2 separate regions of the Homo sapiens genome follow, and region 2 is linked to region 1. Evidence: fine-mapped expression QTL. A gene starts in region 1. The other region holds a variant in brackets. All regions are shown on one strand. Distances are between the middles of the regions.

Region 1 (10,778 bases):
AAAGTCCCCCACAGGTCCCCAGTGGGACTGAGTCCCAGTTGCCCAGAGTGGTAACTCGCTTGATAATGCACCTTTTATTGGCTGCCTTCCTCTCTATTGTCTCCCTTCTCCATTCCTCTATCAGTGTTTCTGGAATCAAATTCAAATTACCATCTGCACTCAAATTCTGAGTTGGCTTCTGGAAAACTGGAAACTAAGAACAGAAATCCAGTGCATAGACCAGAAGCGGTGGCTCACACCTATAATCCCAGCACTTTGGGAGGCTGAGGTGGGCAGATCACCTGAGGTCAGGAGTTACAGACCAGCCTGACCAACATGGTGAAACCCCGTCTCTACTAGAAATACAAAAATTAGCCGGGCATGGCGGCCGGTGCCTGTAATCCCAGCACTTCGGGAGGCTGAGGCGGGCAGATCACCTGAGGTCAGGAGTTTGAGACCAGCCTGACCAACATGGTGAAACCCCATCTCTACTAGAAATACAAAAATTAGCCAGGCATGGTGGCGGATATCTGTAATCCCAGCTACTCAGGAGGCTGAGGCAGGAGAATTGCTTGAACTCAGGAGGCAGAGGTTGCAGTGAGCCGAGATCACGCCATTGCACTCCAGCCTGGGCAACAAGAGTGAAACTCCGTCTTGAAAAAAAAAAAAAAAAAAGAAGAAAGAAAGAAAAGAAATCCAGTACATGGCCTTCTAAGCCATACATCCTTCCATGTGGTTGTTTTCAATAATAAAGCCAGTATTTTCATCTCCATTGCCTAATGCCTCTGTTGCCCAGTTGATTCTGAATTCAGCAGGGAAAGACGCATATTATTTATCACCCCCCAAGCCTCCAGAAAACTGAAAACAGATTTGGAGAATGCAGCCAGGCACTGTGTCAAGTGCTTACGGTAGTGCTAGCTACTGTGGAGGCTGAGGCAGAGGATCACTGGAGCCCAGGAGTTCGAGGCTGCAGTAAGCTATTATCGCACCACTGTACTCCAGCCTGGGCAACAGAGCAAGACGTTGTCTTTAAAATATATATATAGGCTGCGCGTGGTGGCTCACGCCTGTAATCCCAGCAATTTGGGAGGCCGAGGTGGGCAGATCACGAGGTCAGGAGATCGAGACCATCCTGGCTAACACGGTGAAACCCTGTCTCTACTAAAAAAAAAAAAAAAAAAAATTAGCCAGGCGAGGTGGCGGGCGCCTGTAGTCCCAGCTACTAGGGAGGCTGAGGCAGGAGAATGGCACGAACCCCGGGGGGCGGAGCCTACAGTGAGCCGAGATCGTGCCACTGCACTCCAACCTGGGCGACAGCGAGACTCTGTCTCAAAAAAAAATAAAAATAAAAATAAAATAAAAAATATATATATTAAAAAAAAATAACAATTTGGGGAATGCTAGAGTGGAAGGGATTGAGGGTCTTTACCCCAGGCACATGCAGCAGAAGTCAGGAAATGGCTGTGTGGCAGAGTTCACAAGGGAGGCAGGGTAGTCTCAACCCTGGGGCACAGCTGCAGAGTCCTGTTCTTCCCAGGCACTTCCTTGGCACACCCGGTGAAGCTGGGGAACAGATGACTCTGCCCAGCCAGCTCTCCTAGGACCCTCTCAGGTACGGATGGCAGGAATCAAAGCCCAGTATACAGAGTCTTTATTTATTGGAAGTCCTGATATCCAGGAAAGCCGGGCCCATGTCCAGGGCTCAGGACTCCATCTGGCCACTCTGCAGGGGAGGGGCGTGGGGGCAGTCATTCATGTCCAGTTTTCCTGCCGTCAGAGGAGTCCTCAGGAGGCAGGAAGTGGCTGTGCCTGTGGAGAAAGTACATCAACATCTAGTAGCACCTCCTCTGTGCCCAGCCTGGGGAGCCTATGTAGACACCACAGAGGGAGACCCTGCAGAGCCCACAGTCTGGAGGGAGAAGGGTGTTGGGCAATGACCTTGGCCCTGAGCCATGTGAAAAAGTCAGCTGTGGTGAAGTGTCATGGGAGGCAGGGAACGCGCCATTCTGCTATATTTACTGAGCACCTGCCGTGTACCCAGCAGGCAAAACTCTCTGACTCAAGCAGGGAGAGACGGACAATAAATATGTCAACATCCAAGAAATTCGATGAAGAAAATTTAATCAGGGTAAAGAGCAGAGGTGTGTGCGGAATGGGAGGGACATGTACCACTTTGATTGTCAGCCACAAAAACACAGGACATTCTGTAAAGTCTGTATGCCATGCTGCAGGAGATGAGAATGTTTGTGTTCGCTATTGTGTAGACCAGACAACAAATCTCACTGCCCCTAGCTAGGAAGGAAAAACTGTAACTGGGATGCCATCCCCAGGAAGGAGGGGATGATGAGGAGATGTGACCTAATTCCCTTTTTTTTTTTTTTTTGGAAGACAGAGTCTCGCTCTATCGCCCAGGCTAGAGTGCAATGGTGCAATCTTGGCTCACTGCAACCTCTGCCTCCTGGGTTCAAGCAATTCTCCTGCCTCAGCCTCCCAAGTAGCTGGGATTACAGGTACCTGCCACCACACCTGGCTAATATTTGTATTTTTAGTAGAGATGGGGTTTCACCATGTTGGCCAGGCTGGTCTCAAACTCCTGACCTCAGGTGATCCACCCACCTCGGCCTCCCCAAGTGCTGGGATTACAGGCATGTGCCACCGCACCCGGCCCTAATTCCCATTTTTAAAAGCTTCTTTGGCTGCCAGGGAAGAGAAGACTGTCAGGGCAGGGGTGGCCACAAGGAGACCAGAGAGAGGCTGGTTGCTGGTCCAGGGAGGGAAGCAGCAAATGGCTCTAAGATAGGAGGATGGGGTCTTTACTGTTCAGATGCCCAAAAAACTTGAAAGACAGAAATGTCCCCAGCAGCTGACTGAGAACAGTATGTGATCGTTAGGTAACGTTTCCTGAGGAGAATTAAGTTCCTTCCGGCTCTCAGGGGTCGTAGTTTCTGCCCTAGGGGTCTGAACTATTCACTTATCCTTGCCTTACAGAAACAATTAATGCCTATAGGGCCTGGTAAGAAGGGCATCACCCCAATCTTCAGCCAAGAGCTCCCTTGACACAGGCATAGGATGTGAGCCTTGATGGAGGGGCTCAGGGACCTTGGGAACTTGAAGACAGGGGCGGGAAGTGGGTGGGACATCAGGGAGGTTTTCTGAGAGACGTGCCGTCTAAGCTGGAATAGGAATTAGCCAGGAGATGGATTAGGAAGGGCAGTCCCAGCAGAGGGAAACAGCTGGACAAAAGCAGCGGAGACGTGCACTTGAGTAACTGCATGTTCACTGGGGCTGGAACATAGAGCTTAAGGGGGAAAGAGAGGAGAGGTGGGACCACGGGTCGCAGGGACTGCATCCCACAGGGCCCTGTGGGCTGTGCTGGCATTAAGACTTGGGCTGGTGGAATTGAGAACCATGGAAAGGTTTGTAAGTAGAAGCAGAACATGGTCAGATTTCCTCTGAGATCAGTCTAGGATGATCACCAAGAATGACTGGAAAGTCAAGATGGAGCATGGGGCCCAGGAGAAGGATGGCCAGGTGGCCCAAGAGAGAAGCCAGGGCTGCAGGGGCAGAGAGAGGGCCCCAGGAGAGGGTACTCACAGGGGCTGGGGAAAGATGTGACTTTCACCTTTGGAGCTCACAGTCCAGTGAGGAGGGTAGTAAACATCTAAAAGAGCATTTTTCAACCTTTTTCCGTTACTGCCTCTCCTCAAGGAGTCATTTTAGACTTTTGTTCTAATTGCCCAACCATGAAACTTACATATCACAGATATACTGTATATCTGGTTTACATATTAGATACATTTAAAAGAGTGACCTTTTTTTGGCCACCCCAGCCCAGCCCCTCTGCAGTTGCAGATGAGGAGTAGTGAGAAAGAAGAGAGAGGGTGAGGCAGGAGGCAGATGAAGTCAGCCTAGGGAAGAACACAGAGAACCCAGCAAGGACCTGGACTTTTGTTCTCAATGTGACACAAAGCCACTGGAGAGCTTTAAGCATAGGTGTGATGAGACCAGATTTCAGTCCTTACATGCTCACCCAGGCCGCTTTATGGAGGCAAGAAAAGAGGGAGGAAGGGAGACCAGGGAGAAGGCTGGGGCAGGTATCCTGGAGGTGGAGGGTGAGGGTGGTGGTGGATTAAAGCAGGGGCTATATGGGGCAAGAAGTGATGATGTTCTGGATTCTGGATGCATGGCAAAGGCCTGTGTGGTGATGGGGTGGGGCTGAGGATGACTCCAAAGTCTTTACCCTGAACAACCAGAAGGATGAAGGGGATGTTATGGAGAAAAGAGATGAACTGAGGTGAGCCCCTCTTACCTCCACAGTTGCAGGTGAGCGTGGCGGCTGCACCTGCTCAGCGCACTGCAGGAAGCGGCGCATATGCTCTGCACAGTTGCCCACAGCTGCCTCGTTCTGTCGAAGACACTCCTCGAAGGCCTCAAAAGGCTGAGCACAGGCCTGGCGGATCTGGCGGATGATTGGGCTGTGGGGGTAGGGCAGTTCAGCCCCTGGGAGATTCCCACCCCACTGCCCACCCCCCACACTGTCTCATACTTGCCCGCACTCACTGGGAGGATGTGCACTGGGCAATGCTCATCTTAAGGTAGTGACAGTCCCGCTGCCAGGATTCCGGCTTGGCCGCCACACACTGGCCATACTGCTCCAGCTCCCGGCCACAGTAGCGAGCGGTGACCTCTAGGGCCGCCTGCCTGTGGGACAGGATGGGCTGAGGATCATTCCAGGCAGTAGGCAAGCAAGGGAATTCTTTTTTTTTTTTTTATTTTTTAGAGACAGGGTCTCACTGTGGCCCAGGCTGGAGTGCAGTGGCACGATCATAGCTCACTGTAGCCACCAACTCCTGGATTCAAGTGATCTTCCTGCCCCAACCTCCTAAGTAGCTGGGACCACAGGCATGAGCCACCATGCCCAGCTAATTTTTTATGTTTTGTAGAGACAGGGTCTTGCTATGTTGCCGAGGCTGGTATTGAACCCCTGGGCTCAAGCGATCCCCCTGCTTAGACCTCCCAAAGTGCTAGGATTACAGGCATAAGCTATGGTGCTCCGCAAAGAAAGGGAGTTCTGGTCTGGGTCTGAAGTAGGACTAGGAGTTCAGGGCAGATGTGGGAATCTGAAGGATCCTGAGATGGTGCCAAAGAAGTGGAGAGGTGAGGCCCAGCCCTGGGGCTTGTAAAGCAGGAGGGGAGCTTCTGGGGAGAGAGTGGAGGTTCTAAAACAAAGTCTGATTAATGTAAGGTAGGCCTTCAGGGTCCTAGAAGACAGGCCTTGAAATCCAGGCATCCCCCAGTAGGCCTGGGGATCATGCACAGAAGACTTGGGGCCTTAGAAGAAAGATCTAGAATTCCAGGGAGAGCTTGAGAGCCCTTAATGGGTTTGGGGGTTCTAAAAGTGAGGTTTAGAGCTCCAAGAGGTGGGGTCTCAGGTCCTGGGGAAGAGTGTCTTAGCCAAAGAGTCTTCAAGATGAAACCTAAGGCCCTGGTGCGGGACTCAAGGTCCCAGGGGCGTGAAGTCTGGAAGCCCTGGATGAGGTTGGTGCTCTGGGAATCCTGGGCAAGGTCAGAGTGGTCTAGGAACAAGTCTGTGGACCCTATAGGTGAGGACTGGGGTCCCAGGCAGATCTGGAAGGTTCAAAAGGTAAAGTTTGGTGATCAAGGGGGAGGAACCTGGAGCTCTGAGGATGGGTGTAGGAGTCATAGAGGTCCCTAAATAAGTCTGTAGTCTTAGGATTTCAGTGTGAAGGCCGGACCTGGGGTACTGGGGGCAGAGATTGGGTGAAGAGTGACTGGACCGAAGTCCTAAGCAGCGCGAGAGGGGGCGAGGCCTAAACGCTTAGAGGGCGGGGCTTGGGCATGCGGAGGGTTGGAGCTCGTGAGCGAAGGCGCTGAATCCTGAGGGTCAGATCTCCAAGAAGGAGGGAGGCTGGTCCTAGTTCCCGAGGTCCTAGACTAGGTCTAGATCACTGGGTAAAAGAAGGGGAGCGGCAGCACGTATGGGGTAGGCGCTCTCACTACTCACATCTCGAGACCTTTGCCGGCGTAGGGCTGTCCGGGGGGAACGACCCGCCTTTTCCGGTATCGGTTGTCATGGCGGCGCCCAGCCCAGCCTGGTTTTTTCCGGTAGCCAATTGAACTAACAACCCCGTTCCCTTTAGGACTAATCTGTCACGGCGGCGCCCTACCTCTTCTTCCGGCCCGGCTCGTCATGGCGGCGCCCTGAGTAGCCACTTCCGCCCTCTTCTGGCTAAATTGCTTCATCCCTATTTCCGGCTTGCCATGGCAGCGCTCGGGGTTTAACGGAAGTAAGCAATGGAAAGTATGGTGGTGCCTCGGGTCCAAAGAGAATGCGCCGCTGAGTTGCGCGGCACCTGACGGGATTGAGCCTCAGACACAAGCGCTCCAAATCTCCGACTGTAGCTGGTGGGAAGCGCCTGCTGTTGCTGCAGCGTCTCAACATGTTGTTCCCATTTTCGTTGGGTGCTGTAGCGGTAGGCTGTTGGGCTCAGGGATAGGGGGCCTGATTCCTAACGCCGCGCTGCCACCATCGGCCTTGCGCAGACGCTGATAATCCCCCTGGCACCCAGGTTCATGCGAGCGCTTGGAACAGGAGGGAAGAGGGAGTCAAACCAAGAGCCGAACTAATTCGGCTTGGGCCTGCCATTTACCCAGCCTGGGACCCAGACGTTTCCCCATCCCTTAGCGTACGCCAGGACAGACATGGCGTTTAATCCTGACTCCATGAGACTATCAAGCTAGTTACTTCCTCTCTTTGTAATTAATTCCTCCTAATGTAGCAACATTTCCCCCTTCCTTCTCATCTGTCTTAAAAGTGTGAGGTTAGACCTGGGCGTGAGTTTCCCCACATAAGAGACTGGATATCCCCTGGTCAGAGAACTGAGCATCAGTCCTGCCGTTTCGTTTGCAGATCTTTCAAGACTCTAGTCAAAATGAGCAGAACATTTTGCAGTTAATCATAGAGTTGAAGATGAACGAGAAGATGAACGAGAGCTACTTGATTGTGAACTAGTAACGACCACTTGGAGTCGCAGTGTGTCTGTAAAATGATGATGACAGTGACATCATAGAGGACATAGTGCAAGTGAACAGTTTGATACTGAGCTTGGAGCCTCAGTAGTTCTGGATAAGTGAGAGCTGTACGGGAGGTTGTAACCATGAGCTACCCTGGTTGGCAGTTGACATCCGAGGACCAGCACTGGTCATCGCACAGAAAGAAAACTTTACACCTTGAGATCCCTCCATTCTTCTTAAACTTCCAAGTGTATGTTTGATGGGAGAAGAGGGGAAGGGATCAACATTTAAAGGCTCTGGAAGGAGTCAGATAACTGTTTTTGGCTTCAAATGTAGAATGAATCCCTAGATTTTCCTCTACTGAGAGAATGAAATCTTAACCCATTCCGTTCCCTTGTTGGTACTCAGAAACGGATACCCCAAAGATGCATTTTGACATGCTGAAAGGCCTTAGAAGCTGCCTTAGAAGATCTGTCTAACCTTGTCTTGTTGGTGTGTGGAAGTGGGAATGCCCACAGGTGCACAGGGAGGGAGTTTCTGAAATTATCTGACCGAGAAAGCAAAAAAAAAAAATCAATTGTCTTAAACCCGGTTTCTAGGGATCTCATTAAAGAACTAGGAAAAATTAACCACCTGTTAACAGAAAAACCAAACTGAAATGTTTTAAAGAGATTTATTTTGAGCCAATATGAGTGACCATGGCCTGGGGAACACAGGCTCAAGAGGTCCTGAGAAAGTGTGCCTGAGACAGTAGAATTACAGTTTGGTTTTGTACATTTTAGGTGGACAGGAGTTACAGACAAAGACATAAATCAGTACATGGAAGGTACAGATTGTGTTCAGCTGGGTGCAGTGGCTCACGCCTGTAATCCCAGCACTTTGGGAGGTCGAGGTGGGCGAATCGCTTGAGGTCAGGAGTTCGAGACCAGCCTGGCTAACATGGTGAAACCGTGTCTCTACAAAAAATACAAAAAATTAGCCAGGGATGGTGGCAGGCACCTGTAGTCCTGGAGCTACTCAGGAGGTTGAGGCACGAGAATTGCTGCGGAGGTTGTAGTGAGCCGAGACCACACCACTGCACTCCAGCCTGGGTGACAGAGCATGACTCTGTCTCAAAAAAAAAAAAAAAATTCTACGGTATTTTTATAATACATTTTGTAGTACCACTTATAACCACTTGGGTGCGTGGGTTGCCCATTAAATCAAACAGTTTACAGTTCACCCTTGAACAACATGGATTTAAACTGTACTGGTCCACTTATACTCAGATTTTCTTCTGCCGCTGTCACTCTGAGACAGCAAGACCAACCCCCCTTCCTCTCCTCAGCCTACTCAATGTGAAAAGGACAAGGATGAAGGCCTTTATGATGATCCACTTCCACTTAATGAATAGTATATTTTATCTTCCTTACGATTTCCTTAATAACAGTTTCTTCTCTCTACTTTACTATTGCAAGAATACAGTATATAATGCATATAACATACAAAATATGTGTTCATCTATGTCATCAGTAAGACTTCAGATCGACAGTAGGCTATTAATAGTTAAGTTTTGGGGGAGTCAAAAGTTATATGTGGATTTTCTACTGCATTGTTTAAGGGTCAACTGTAGATTCAACGACTACCTAGGATTGTAGAGTTGACTGATAGCACTGGGACTGATGATAACATCATAACCTGTAAGAAGTGTCAACAATGGTGATGGACCCCCAGCAACCCTGGAGTGGGGATGTCTAAAGATAGATGTCATCCACCAGGCAGGAGTTGGTGCTGCCAGTGTGTCATGTACTGCAGCCTCTTTTATTTATTTATTTATTTTTATTTATTTTTTGAGACAGCATCTCGCTTTGTCACCCAGGCTGGAATGCAGTGGCACAATCTCGGCTTACTGCAACCTCCACCTCCCGGGTTCAAGCGATTCTTCTGCCTCAGCCTCCCAAATAGCTGGGACTACAGGTGCGCACCACCACGCCAGGCTAATTTTTGTATTTTTAGTAGAGACGGGGTTCCATCATATTGGCCAGGCTGGTCTCAAAGTCCTGACCTCGTGATCCGCCCATGTCGGCCTCCCAAAGTGCTGAGATTACAGGTATGAGCCACAGCGCCTGGCCTGCAGTCCCTTTTACTACAACAAATATGGGAAAGAGTCACAGGTGTGGCATACGGTGGTGGCTTCTGCGTTAGAAACATAGGCCAAGTACAGTGGCTCATGCCTATAAATCTCAGCACTTTGGGAAACTGAGGTGGCCAGACTGCTTGAGCCCAGGAGTTTGAGATCAGCCTGGGCAACATGGCGAAATTCTGTCTCTACAAAAAGTACAAAAGTTACCCGGGTGTGGTGATGTCATAGGTAGTAGATTTATCCTTCAAACATCAACAACTAAAAAATCTGGACAAAATAGGAGACAACAGAGTTCAGACATTGGAAACAAGCATTGTAGCACAGTGGTCCCCAAGAGAAAGGAGACAAATGAAGTGACCTTAGTGGCCCGGCTTATGTCTGGAGAGTTAGTTTCTAGGCTACATAGCCCAGGGGTGTCCCTGAGTTGGGACAAAGTTGAGAATTTGGAGAGGCCAAGGCAGCTAGTTTGTAAGGCAGGGTACCAGAGAGTAGCGCAGCACAGACCTGCAAAGGGTTTCCTGCACGTGTAGCGCACAGCATGCCTGTGAACACACTCCTGGAAACCAAGGGAACTACCAGGAAGGTGCAGGCAGAGCAATCCCCGGAGCCATAGTGGAGACCATCACTGTGCACTGGCTAAACTACTCAAAGATACTGCCTGTCTAGTGAGGCAAAATTAGCCCTAATGGCCGCTCTGGTCTCACCTAAGTAAGCTCAGAAACACTGAAGCAAGCTCTCAGTTCGAAGGAAAATGGAAATCTGGCATATGAAATCAAGATCTCCAGATACAGTAAATATAACTCTTATGACAAAATAGCACAAAGGCCAAGAGACAGGAAAGTGTGTGCTGTTGCTAAGTTGTTCTACTACCTGTGAAGTGGTAGAATATTACATAAAAGTGTGACAAGTCTAAAGATGTACACTAGAAATTTTAAGAGAAACAACAAAAAATGAAAATGGAGGTAGGGTTAATAAGCCAACAAAGGAGATAAAAATGAAATAATACAAAATAAATTAGCCCCGCACAAGTATGGCCATCTGATTTAAACCCTGTCACTCCAGCTGGAGTGCAGTGGCGTGATCACGGCTCACTGCAGCCTCGACTCCCAGGCTTAGACGATACTCCCACCTCAGCCTCCTGGGGAGCTGGGACTACAGGTGCACACCACCATGCCTGGCTAATTTTTTTAGTAGAGATGGGGTCTGGCTGTGTTGCCCAGGCTGGTCTCAAACTCCTGGGCTCAAGCAATCATCCCACTTCAGCTTCTCAAAGTGCAGGGATTACAGGCGTGAGCCAGTGCACCCGGCCTATGGCCATCTGATTTTTGACAGAAGTGCAGAAGTAATTCAATAGAGAAAGGATCGTTTTCAAGTAACAGTCCTGGAGCAATTGGATATCTATTGGCAAAAAAAAAAAAAAAAAAAAAAAAAAAAATCTTGATCTAAACCTTACACTTTGTACAAAAATGAACTCTTAAGTGGAAAATGGATCATAGATTTAAATATAAAGCATAAAACTATAAAACCTTTAGAAAATAACATATGAGAAAATCTTTGGGCTAGGTGAAGAGTTCTTAGACACAACACCAAAAACCTGTCAATTGGGCTTCATCAAAATTTAAATTTGTTTCTCTGCAAAATA
Region 2 (10,778 bases), 390 kb after region 1:
TGAGGCTGAGGCAGGAGAATAGCTTGAATCTGGGAGGCAGAGGTGGCAGTGAGCCGAGATTGTGCGACTGCACTCCAGACTGGGGGACAGAGCGAGACTATGTCTAAAAACAAAATAAAACAAAAAACAAACAAAAAAAACCATTTACGCCTTATCCATGAAACAACATAGATGGAGGTGATGTGTCCTTCTGCTCAGGTAATTCGAGAATTCCCCAGACAAAGGCAGAAATGAAGGAGAATGGCCAAGTATGTAGCTAGTGATTCCCTATGCATAAGCCAGCTGCATACATGCCACCCCTTATGTGACATTCCCACGAACATCTGAGGTGTCCCCCATGGCTCTGCACAGTTCCTCCTGGGCAAGCCATACTCCTTTGTTATTTCCAAGCTTGAGAATCTTAATTAGTACTAGCCACCAATTACCTAATACACACTTCACAGCTGATCACCACACTCCAGTGGATCAGGGATTGCAGTTGAGAGCACTGGTTGCTTGAGTTGGGAGTTGATGTCTCTCAGTCAAAGACCACCAGGAACCCACATATAGTCAACAAAGTCAGGTTTACTATTTGCTGCAGCAAAAGAGGTTGCATATGGGGGGTGTCTTTGTCTGTTTTCTGTTGCTATAACAGAATACCACAGACTGGGTAACTTATAAAGAAAATGTTTAGCTCATGGTTCTGGAGGCTGGGAAGTTCAAGAGCATGGAACTGGCATCTTGTGAGGCCTTCTTGCTGCATCATACCACGGTGAAGGGCATTACATGGTGAGAGGGCAACAGCAGGAGAGCCAGAGAGAGCTCGCTTCTATAATAAAGCCCTTCCCTCAATAACGAACCCACTCCTGTGATAGTGACATTAATCCATTTATGACCACACAGGCCTCATTAACCCATTAATCCATTCATGAGGGCAGAGCTAACACTAATTCATTCATGAGGGCAGAGGGATTAATTTTCCAACACATGAACATTTGGGGGCACATTCAAACCATAGCAGAGAGGAACTGAGGAACATCTTAACAGGAGGGAATTGGGGACAGACAGGGCATTTGAGACCAGAGAAAGTCATAGGATGATCCTGGAAGGGATGGGTGAGATTTTGTAAACTAGAGAGTTTCTGGAAGAGTCAGTACTCTTGTCTGGCTGTGTGAGTGAGTGGGTGTTAGGAGAGTTTATGCTTAGATGATTTGTGACATTCATGTTCTGAATGGGTGCCATTTATGGGTTAGCTCTAGAGCAGCAATGTTGAAAAGTTGTGGCTTGTTTCAACTCTCAGTTCTCCCTGACAGCCTTGCTGCCAATAGAGCAATTTTTCACTCCGTCACTGGAAAAGTGACGATGAGAGAAATGAGAGAAATGGACACCAGGAAATGACTCTGCCCACCGTACAACTGTCTGTCACCATGCAAAGAGGGAGAGTTGCATGCAGGGATGCTAAAGGAGAAAAGACACCCTGGGCAATTTCTCAGGGGGACCGCCTTGACCTGGGAGGCATTTCTATGGAATTCCTGTCCATTTGTCTTTTGACTCACTTTTGATCTTGATTATAATTTTTTCCCTTCTGTTTGTCCAAGAGGAAAAGGAAATGTGGGTCATGCATCCTGGTTCCTAGGGCAGAGCCTGGCTTTAATTAGCATGCAGATGGAACCCACATAGTCCTTCACTTGCTCTGTAATGTCACCTGAAGTTAATAAAAGCAGAGATTCCAATTAGTTAGCCTGACTCACTGGTAGACTATAGTGGAGGGAGGCTTCCCTGGCTTTACTGAGGGTGTATCTTAGTGCATTCAGGTTGCTATAATAAACTACCTTAGGCTGGGTGACTAATAAACAACAAAAATTTATTTCTCACAGTTCTGGAGGTTGGAAAGTCCAGGATCAAGGTTCCAGCAGGTTTGGTGTCTGGTGAGGACCTGTTTCATGACCCATAAATGGTGCCTTTTTACTGTGTCCTCACATGATGAAAGGTAGCAGACACACTCTGGGTTTCTTTCTTTCTTTCTTTCTTTCTTTCTTTTTTTTTGAGACAATCTCACTCTGTCACCCAGGCTGGAGTTAGTGCTGCAATCTCGGCTCACTGCAACCTCTGTCTCCCAGGTTCAAGCGATTCTCCTCCCTCAGCCTCCCAAGTAGTGGGATTACAGGTGTCTACCAATACACCTGGCTAATTTTTGTATTTTTAGTAGAGACGGGGGTTTCACCATGTTGGCCGGGCTGGTCTTGAACTCCTGACCTCAAGCAATCTGCCCACCTTGGCCTCCCAAAGTGCTGGGATTATAGGCATGAGCCACCGCACTCAGCCTCTGGGTTTCTTTTATAAGGACACTAATCCCATTTATGTGAGCTCCGCTTTTATAAACTAATCACCTCCCAAAAGCCCTACTTGGTAACACCATCACCTTGGAGATGAGGTTTCAATGTATTAATTTAGGTGGTTGGGGGAGACATAAACATCCAGACCACAGAAAGGGGTAAGAGCCGAATCAGCTGCTGCAGGAATATTGTTACAGAGGAGGGAGACAGCAGGCCTGGAAGAGGAGGTTTCAGGGAGGGAGTGTTTTTGATCCTGCAGATTCTGAGGAGAGAATGGCTTTGATTTTGTTTGCTGTTCTCCAGGCAAATCCAGGGTGGGGATTAAGAGTCCATAGCCCTTCCTGTTCCTGGAGTCAATGAATCTCTTTATGAAATATGCTGATTGAGCCCCTTGTTTCATCTTTTTACTGCTGAAGTGAGTAGAATCATGTCATTACTAGTTATAAAATTAGTCCATGTCTTTTTCAGAAATAGAAAAAGAAAAAAGTCCACGATGTTTGAAAATCAGCTCCCTGAATGTCCCAGTATGACTCTGCCCTCATTGCAAAATGGCTTTCCTCTCTGGCTTTAAATTTAGCTGCAGTTACACTAATAAAGTCATCATCTTGCTCCAAGATCATTAGCAAAGAAAGGGATGGCTGAGCTAGGATGTGGACTTGAAGTGAAGTGACTGGTTGGCAGTTGGTGGCTGTCTATGTTCCCTAGGATGGGGATGACCCCTTTCAGCAATAGGTGATTTACCCTCAGCTGGTGTTTGGAGGGGAGGTTGGGATACTAGGTGTGTTCATTTCCTAGGGCTGCTGGAACAAAATACCACAAACCAGGTGGCATTCTCTCACAGTTCTGGAGGCTACAAGTCTGAAATAAAGGTATATACAGGGCCACACTTCCTCCAAAGGCTGCAGGGAATGATCCTTCCTTATCTTTTCCTAGCTTTTGGTGATTGCCAGCAATCTCAGCATCCCTTTGCTGTGAAAGCATGACACCAATCTCTGCTTCTGTCTTTTCTCTCTCTCTCTGCATGTTTCTCTCTCTGTCTCTCTCTCTCTCTCTCTCTCTCTCTCTCTCTGTGTGTGTGTGTGTGTGTGTGTGTGTGTGTGTGTGTGTGTTTTCTCTTACGGATGCCAGTCATTGTATGATGATTCCATCTTAACTAATTACATCTGCAAAGACATTATTACTAAATAACATCACATTCATAGGTACCAGGTGTTAGGACATTGACTTGGTTTGGCTGTGTCCCCATCCAAATCTCATCTTGAATTGTAGCTCCCACAATTCCCATGTGTCATGGGAGGGACCTGGTGGGAGATAACTGAATCATGGGGGCAGGTCTTCCCCATGCTGTTCTTGTGATAGTGAATAAGTCTTAGGAGATCCAATGGTTTTATAAAGAGGAGTTCCCCTGCACAAGTTCCCTCTTGTCTGCTGCTATGTAAGACATGCCTTTGCTTCACCTTTGCCTTCCGCTATGATTGTGAGGCCTCCCCAGCCAGGCAGAACTGTGAGTCCATTGGACCTCTTTTTCTTTATAAATTACCCAATCTTGGGTATGTCTTTATCAGCAGCATGAAAACGGACTAATACAGACATAAACATATCTTTTTGAGAGACACAGTTCAGCCTACAACACAAAGCCTATTATGCTCCTCAGGCAAGAGGCTGGGACAGAGCTAAGGCTGGCCCTGATCAGACTCTTCCATGATGCTGGAAAGGATATTCTAACCTTTGATACAGGCCATTCTAGCCTGAGTTTTGCAATTTAAGTAATCAGGCTGGGCACTGTGGCTCACTCCTGTAATCCCAGCACTTTGGGAGGCTGAGGTGGGAGGATCGTGCGAGCCTGAGAGGTGGAGACTGAAGTGGCATGAGAACATGCCACTGCACTGGCATGAGAATATACCACTGCACTCCAGCCTGGGTGACAGAGCAAAACCCTGTCTCAAAAAAAAAAAAAAAAAAAAAAAAAGAAGAAGAAGAAGAAATTAATTTTGGGGGAAGGGTAAGGCAGGTGCACAGAGTCAAATGTGTTCTGTTCCTCAGTCCACAGCATAATCTCCCCATCAATGATAGAGGGATCTTGTCATTTTATTTTCTCCCTTTCTGCCCTGAGTCAGTCAGGATAGTTATGCTGGAGCAACAGACAACCTTAAAATCATTGTGGTTTAAAACAACAAAGAACCATTTTTTGCTCATGCTTTTGTGCCTCATAGATCAGCAGTTCACTGTGATCACTCAGACACCTGAGCTGACAGGGCAACCTCCACACTGAGTGGGGCCATTGGCCATATGAGAGGAGAGAGAACTCTGGGGGTCCCAGCATCTGTGAGTTCCTTGGCCTGGAAGAGACTGGCACCATTTCTGAGCCACCACTGGTC[T/C]CAGTGACATGCCCTCCCACGAGGGCACAGAGTGCCAGCCTATCATGGGCCCAGAGGTGGGAGAGGAGGAAGTATTAGGCCAAATTTGCTAATGTCTACCACAAATGCCAACTGTTTTGTGCCTTGTCCATCACCTTGCCCACAGGACAGGCTGGCACTGGAGCTGCCTCAGTGAGCATGCAGACAAGATGCCTGCTCTTGTGGAGCTGGGATGCCAGCAGGTCAGGTCTGTAGGGATGCTTAGAACGGCTGCAAACAAGAACTCCATCTGAAACCTACTTAAATCATAACCACGTTATCTCACATAACAGCAAGTCCAGCATTAGTATGAGAAAGACTCCCTAGAGGGCAATGTTCTTGCCTCCTACAGCTTTCAAGCCCAGGTCTGGCACCCCCTGGGAGCTGGACAGGAATGAAGGAATGGGAGCAGTAAATTACCTTGCCACTCAGGGCCCCAGCAAGGGGTGAGGAGTGAACTCTTCCTATGATGGAGGTTTGCCTGGGTCAGGTGGACAAACGAGTCAAAGAGGCAGAGATCTTTATTTGCAGAAACATGTCTGGCCACTCAGCCAACCATAAGAAAGGAAGGCAAGCTATTGCGTAAGTGCCACCGCATGGCTGAGGTGAATCCTGGCATAAGTAAGCAAGGTATATGACAGAGCACACTTTCCCCCTAAAGAATGCATCTAAAGCGCTCCCTGAGCTAAGAAACTAGATTGCTACGATCTAATTTCTCATTAAACGTGGTCAGATTCAGAAAATCCCATCAGCCCAAATCTAATTTTCATCATCATAGTCTCTTGTTTGCAAGTCAGCTAATATTTCTGTGGTCTGGCCAATGCTGTGTTTTGTTGGAAATCCTCTTTGTGACAAAGGGTGGCCTAAGTTTCTCATTAGACTTCCTCTAATAAGAACCAACTTCTCCATGAATCAAGTGCCAACTTCTCCATGAATTGGTCTTGACTCTTCCAGTGATCCCTTTCCCCCAACTTCTGACCTTGGTGAACCTGCAGCACCACCCACATTGGATTTCTCACTCTGTTTCTACCATTGTTCAAAGTATCCCCTTGTGACAGATGTGGAGATCTTACTTCTGAACTAGAGGGTAAGTTTTATTTTAGGCAGAAATCATTTGTTTGAAAAGAACACCCAAAAGAATGCATGCAAAGGAAGACTGAAAGGACACAGGGCTATCTGATAAAACCCACTGACGGGAAGCCAGGTTGCATGAGGCACTGGAAACCCAAACAGGAAACCAGGAGTGGCGTTTTGAAAATTGGCCCTAAAATCCTTTGAAACCTCTCAGCTCAATTCAATTTAGTAAGTACTCACTGGCCTATGTCCACCTCCCAGGACTCAGTGGCTTCTTGTGACTACTTTGACCAACAGAGTATGGTGGAGGTAACAATATGTGATTGGGTCCTAAAAGGCCACGTAGCTTCCACATTGTTCCCTGGAACACTCATGCTAGTAACACGAGCCACTGTGTTAGAAGCCCAACTACTCTGAGGCCACCTGGCTCAGAGGTGGCTTTATTGGGAGTCTGAACTTGTGCCCAAGGAGAGATATGAGGAAGTCAGACTCAAATGGGTCACTTTCCACCAACCACTGCCTCAGCTTTACCAAGCTCTCCCTGCAGGGAAGGAAAGATGAATTTTTGTGACTCTTAGCTTGTACATATGAAAATCTCTAAGTGTTTACGAGCTGCATAAATATTCCTGAATGTCTGCTGTGTCCTACACACACTGTTCTAGGTGCTAAGCCACATGGAGAGCCCAAGGGTAGATGTTCCAGTTATCGGTCCTAGTCTTTAGGTCATCCCAGCCCAGGCAGACATGTGAGTGACCCTTAGGTAACCCTAGCCCCCAGGCATGGAGTCTTCCCAGCTGAGGGAAGCAAAGACATTGTGGAGCAAATAGAAACTATTCCCCTGTGCTCTCTCTGAACTACTGGCCCACCGAATCCATGATAATTCATAATAAAATAATTGTTTTAAGCCACTAAGTGTTGGGATATTTTATGCAGCAATAAGCAGAACACAAAATTAAATTCTATCCTTCCAAGCCCTATGTTCTATTGTTTCCTTTCTTCCCACATCAGCATCATTGTTCTGTTTGTAGACAAGTTGTCTTTCCCTTGTGCACATGAGCCCAATATGGCCATCCAAAGCTTTACACCACTACCTCATTCAAACACTCAGGAGAGATTCTGAGTCCTAAGGCCAAACTCCTAGGATATGGGATCCAACTGTCATTGCACACGATTACGGTGTTTGCAACACCCAAGTGACGTGGATGATATACATTTGGCCCTCCATACCCACAGGTTCTGCACAATCAACCAACTGCATATCAAAAATATTCAGAAAAAAGGAATAAAAATAACATACGTTTTAAAACGTAGAGCAACTATTTATACAGCATTCACTTTGTATCAGATATTATAAATAATCTATAGATTACTTAAATTATGCAAGAGAATGTGCATAGGCTCTCTTCATATACTATGCCATTTCTGGTTTTTTTTGAGACAGAGTCTTGCTCTGTCACCTAGGCTGGAGTGCAGCAGCGCTATCTCGGCTCACTGCAACCTCCACCTCCTGAGTTCAAGTGATTCTCCTGCCTCAGCCTCCAAGTACTTGGGATTACAGGCATGTGCCACCACACCCAGCTAATTTTTATATTTTTAGTAGAGATGGAGTTTCACCATGTTGGCCAGGCTGGTCTCAAACTCCTGACCTCAGGTGATCCACTCGCCTTGGCCACCCAAAGAGCTGGGATTACAGGTGTGACCCACCGCACCCAGCCCTATGCCATTTTTCTATCAGGGACTTGAGCATCCATGGATTTTGGTATCCATGGGGGGTCCTGGAGCCCATCCTCTGCAGATACCAAGGGATGACTGTAATTACATATATTACACATACATTTACTATATACTGACAAACACCTTTCACTGCTTTTGTTTTTGTAGTTCTCATCCCTCTTTGACATTACACGTTTTTTCATTTACACATCTATTTTCTGTCCCCTTGCCAAAATGTAAGCTCCATGAAGTCAGTGTCTTCAGCAATCTTATCCACTGTAACTTCAGCAAGTAGAACAGTGCCTGGAACGCACTAGACATTCAGGAATATTCACGCAGCTCATAAACACTTAGAGATTTTCATATGTACAAGCTAAGAGTCATAAAAGTTTATCTTTCCATCCCTGCAGTGAGAGCTTGGTAAAGCTGAGGCAGTGGTTGGTGGAAAGTGAGCAACCCATTCGAGGGACTTCCTCTCTCCTTGAGCACATGTTCAGACTCCCAACAAACCCATCAAGTTGACTGTGACTCTGCAGTGGTATTTCATTGTTGGCTTATTTTTCTTTTCGTTTGCTAGTGTTGTAGGTATAATAATTCTTAAAAAGTGATTTTTAAAACCCATCCAGAATCCTAGCTAACTTTCTACTGCTCAAGTGCCCAGGATCTATTTGGCTTGCCTCTTGTCTCTTCCTGGTGGCAGCTGACTGATACCCAGATACCCAAGTCAGGCAGGTGGGCTAGCTGTAGAATACCCCTCCACTCAGGCCTCTCTGTCCTTCCAAAGGAGGGTTTGGTGGGTGGGGCAGATGTGAGAACTGGAGGCGTCACTGGGGCCTTCTTTGATTCAGGAACAAGAATGTTCATACATTGCTGTTGGGGGTGGAAAATAACATAATTCTTACAGAGGAAAAGTTGGCCCTAAAGATACAAAGGCAAAAATACAAAAAGACATATGCATATTGCTGCAATATTTTTAATAGCAAAGGGCTAGAAACAACCCAAATGTCAATCAGGAGTGACTGGTCGAATAAACAATGGTATGCTGTCATAATGAAGCATTACAATGGAAAACATACTATATGGTTCTATGGAGTGACAGCCAATATTTTAAGCAAAATAGAAGGGTCCAGGAAAGTGTGAAATAGCATGCTATCATTTATCATTTGTTTATATTGCTTAAATGGAAGGATAAAAGGGGAAATTTGATTACAGCAGAAGAGAAGCAGGAAATAGGGTGGAGGGAACCGGTCAGAAGATAAACTCTGAATACATTTTGTTCTGTAGATTTGACTTTGGAACCATGTAAATAGTTTACATAATTATAAAACAAAGTTAAAATTAAAAAGCAATCTCTAAAAATTTCAGGAAAATGAAGGAGGTATAATCAGTAAATCCTGATTCTAGTTTGGAGCATGCCACAGAGAGGGGAACCATTCCAAGTAACTTTACAACAGTAAGTTGACTGTCTGTCCCTAATCGCATAAATGCTGAGGACACAAAGAATTGAAGAAAAAAAATGATTTTAGCTGTTTTTAGTTATCACATTTGTGTGTTAAGGTTGGCATTGTTCTTATAAGAATTTTTTTTAATGTGTAGTTATTTTGGTGATGTTTAGAAGGAGGTTTTCAGAATGAGAGAAAGAGAGCAGATAGAGGATCAATGAAGCTATGTTAAAAATGAAAACAAGGCCAGGCGCGGTGGCTATGCCTGTAATCCCAGCACTTTGGGAGGCCGAGGCGGGCAGACCACTTGAGGACAGGAGTTTGAGACCAGCTTGGCCAACGTGGCAAAACCCTGTCTCTACTGAAAATACAAAAATTAGCTAGGTGTGGTGGTGCATGCCTGTAATCCCAGCTACTCAGGAGGCTGAGGCATGAGAATCACTTGAACCCAGGAGGTGGAGGTTGCAGTGAGCCAAGATTGCACCACTGCACTCCAGCCTGGGCAACAGAGCTGGACTCTGTCTCAAAAATAAAATAAAATAAAATAAAACGAAAACACTACAAAAAAATAAAAATTTGCTGGGCATAATGGCATGGACCTGTAGTCCCAGCTACTCAGAGGCTGAGGTGGAAGGATCGCTTGAGCCCAGGAATTTGAGGTTGCAGTGAGCTATGGTTGTACCATTGCAGTCTACTCTGAGTGACACAGAGAGACCCTGTCCCTATGCCAGTTCTCCCCTCTAACTAACAAAAAACCCACAGTAGTCCTGAATTAAATTGGAAGTATCAGCATGAACTCATGTAGTGTTTTATCTTAAAAAATACTAATAATACATATTTCCTAGCTCTAGCCACTAAAGCCAAGAAACTATGATGTAACCACTACCAATGAGCACTCTGAGCACTCAGACCTTGATGTCTAATTACCATCCCCCACTAGAAGGAACCAGGGATTACTGGGAGAAAACAGCTGATTTCAGGGCAGGGGCAGAAAATATACAGGATGAAAAAGACTACTAGGGTCATGTCAAAAGGAATCAGCCACCTCGAAGCAGCTCCCAAGAACCAAAGATAGAACAATTTGAGCAAAAACAAAGACAGTAGCTGTAATTACTATTAATACAGATGATAACACACATGATAACATCAGATATGTTTCAACCATGAGTTCATAATGTACTCAAAGAAGAAAACAACTCTCACAGGGCATGTTGGAAAGATGCCTGTGAACCATCTCATTTTGAAAACTGAAAAATAAAGGGAGGAAAGCCAAGAATCAATCCTACTTTTCTTATACAAACCAAATCTCAGGGTAACCAAATAACTGATGAGAGTGTGTTTCTCTTTATAAAGTATGTCAGCTAATAAACAAAGAAAAAATCAATAGCACTAGAATATTAATTGCAATCCCTACAGAAGTAATGGATCTGTGCAATCTGCGGGGGCTAACATCAGAAAAGAGAGGCAACCAGATATTTTGCTCCTCCTACTGGAAGCATCTGTCACCACCAATAAAGTAGTCTTGCCTAAATAAATCTAACTTGAATCTGACTAACTCTCTAGATTTATAAGAAATAGAGAAGACAGAGATGCACTCAGAAAAACTCATACTGTGAAAAATTCTACAATATAAATGACCCTATATTTTGTCTTCCAACAAACCTTCAGATTATTCCAATATATGCTGAAGTGTGAGACCCACTGCTACAGATTAAAAAAAGGCTTAAAATGCATATCAATAAATCACAGTGCATAGACCTACTGCAAGTAAACAAAAAAATATAAGCCACTCAGAGAAATGTCAACGATGGCTGAATATTTAAAGGTATTAAGGAATT

Evidence for each region.
Region 2: its variant is fine-mapped to the expression of CHCHD5 in tibial artery (GTEx, PIP 0.98).

What each region holds. Positions count from the first base shown.
Region 1 is chr2:112,579,876-112,590,653 of GRCh38, reverse strand. It overlaps CHCHD5 (coiled-coil-helix-coiled-coil-helix domain containing 5), which reads right to left and starts at 6,045. Exons shown (of 4, transcript NM_032309.4): 1 at 6,005-6,045; 2 at 4,540-4,680; 3 at 4,289-4,454; 4 at 1,614-1,788. The coding sequence starts at 6,006. The coding sequence ends at 1,765. LOC101927330 (a long non-coding RNA gene) reads left to right here and starts at 5,382. Exons shown (of 2, transcript XR_923204.3): 1 at 5,382-5,517; 2 at 6,141-7,667. RefSeq lists enhancers at 6,152-6,321, 5,619-6,370, 5,637-6,836 and a silencer at 8,068-8,362.
Region 2 is chr2:112,189,881-112,200,658 of GRCh38, reverse strand. It overlaps a transcript of FBLN7 not described here. Among named protein-coding and RNA genes, the nearest start is that of FBLN7, 57 kb to the right of the region's middle. The variant T/C (reference allele first, on the strand shown) is at 4,694.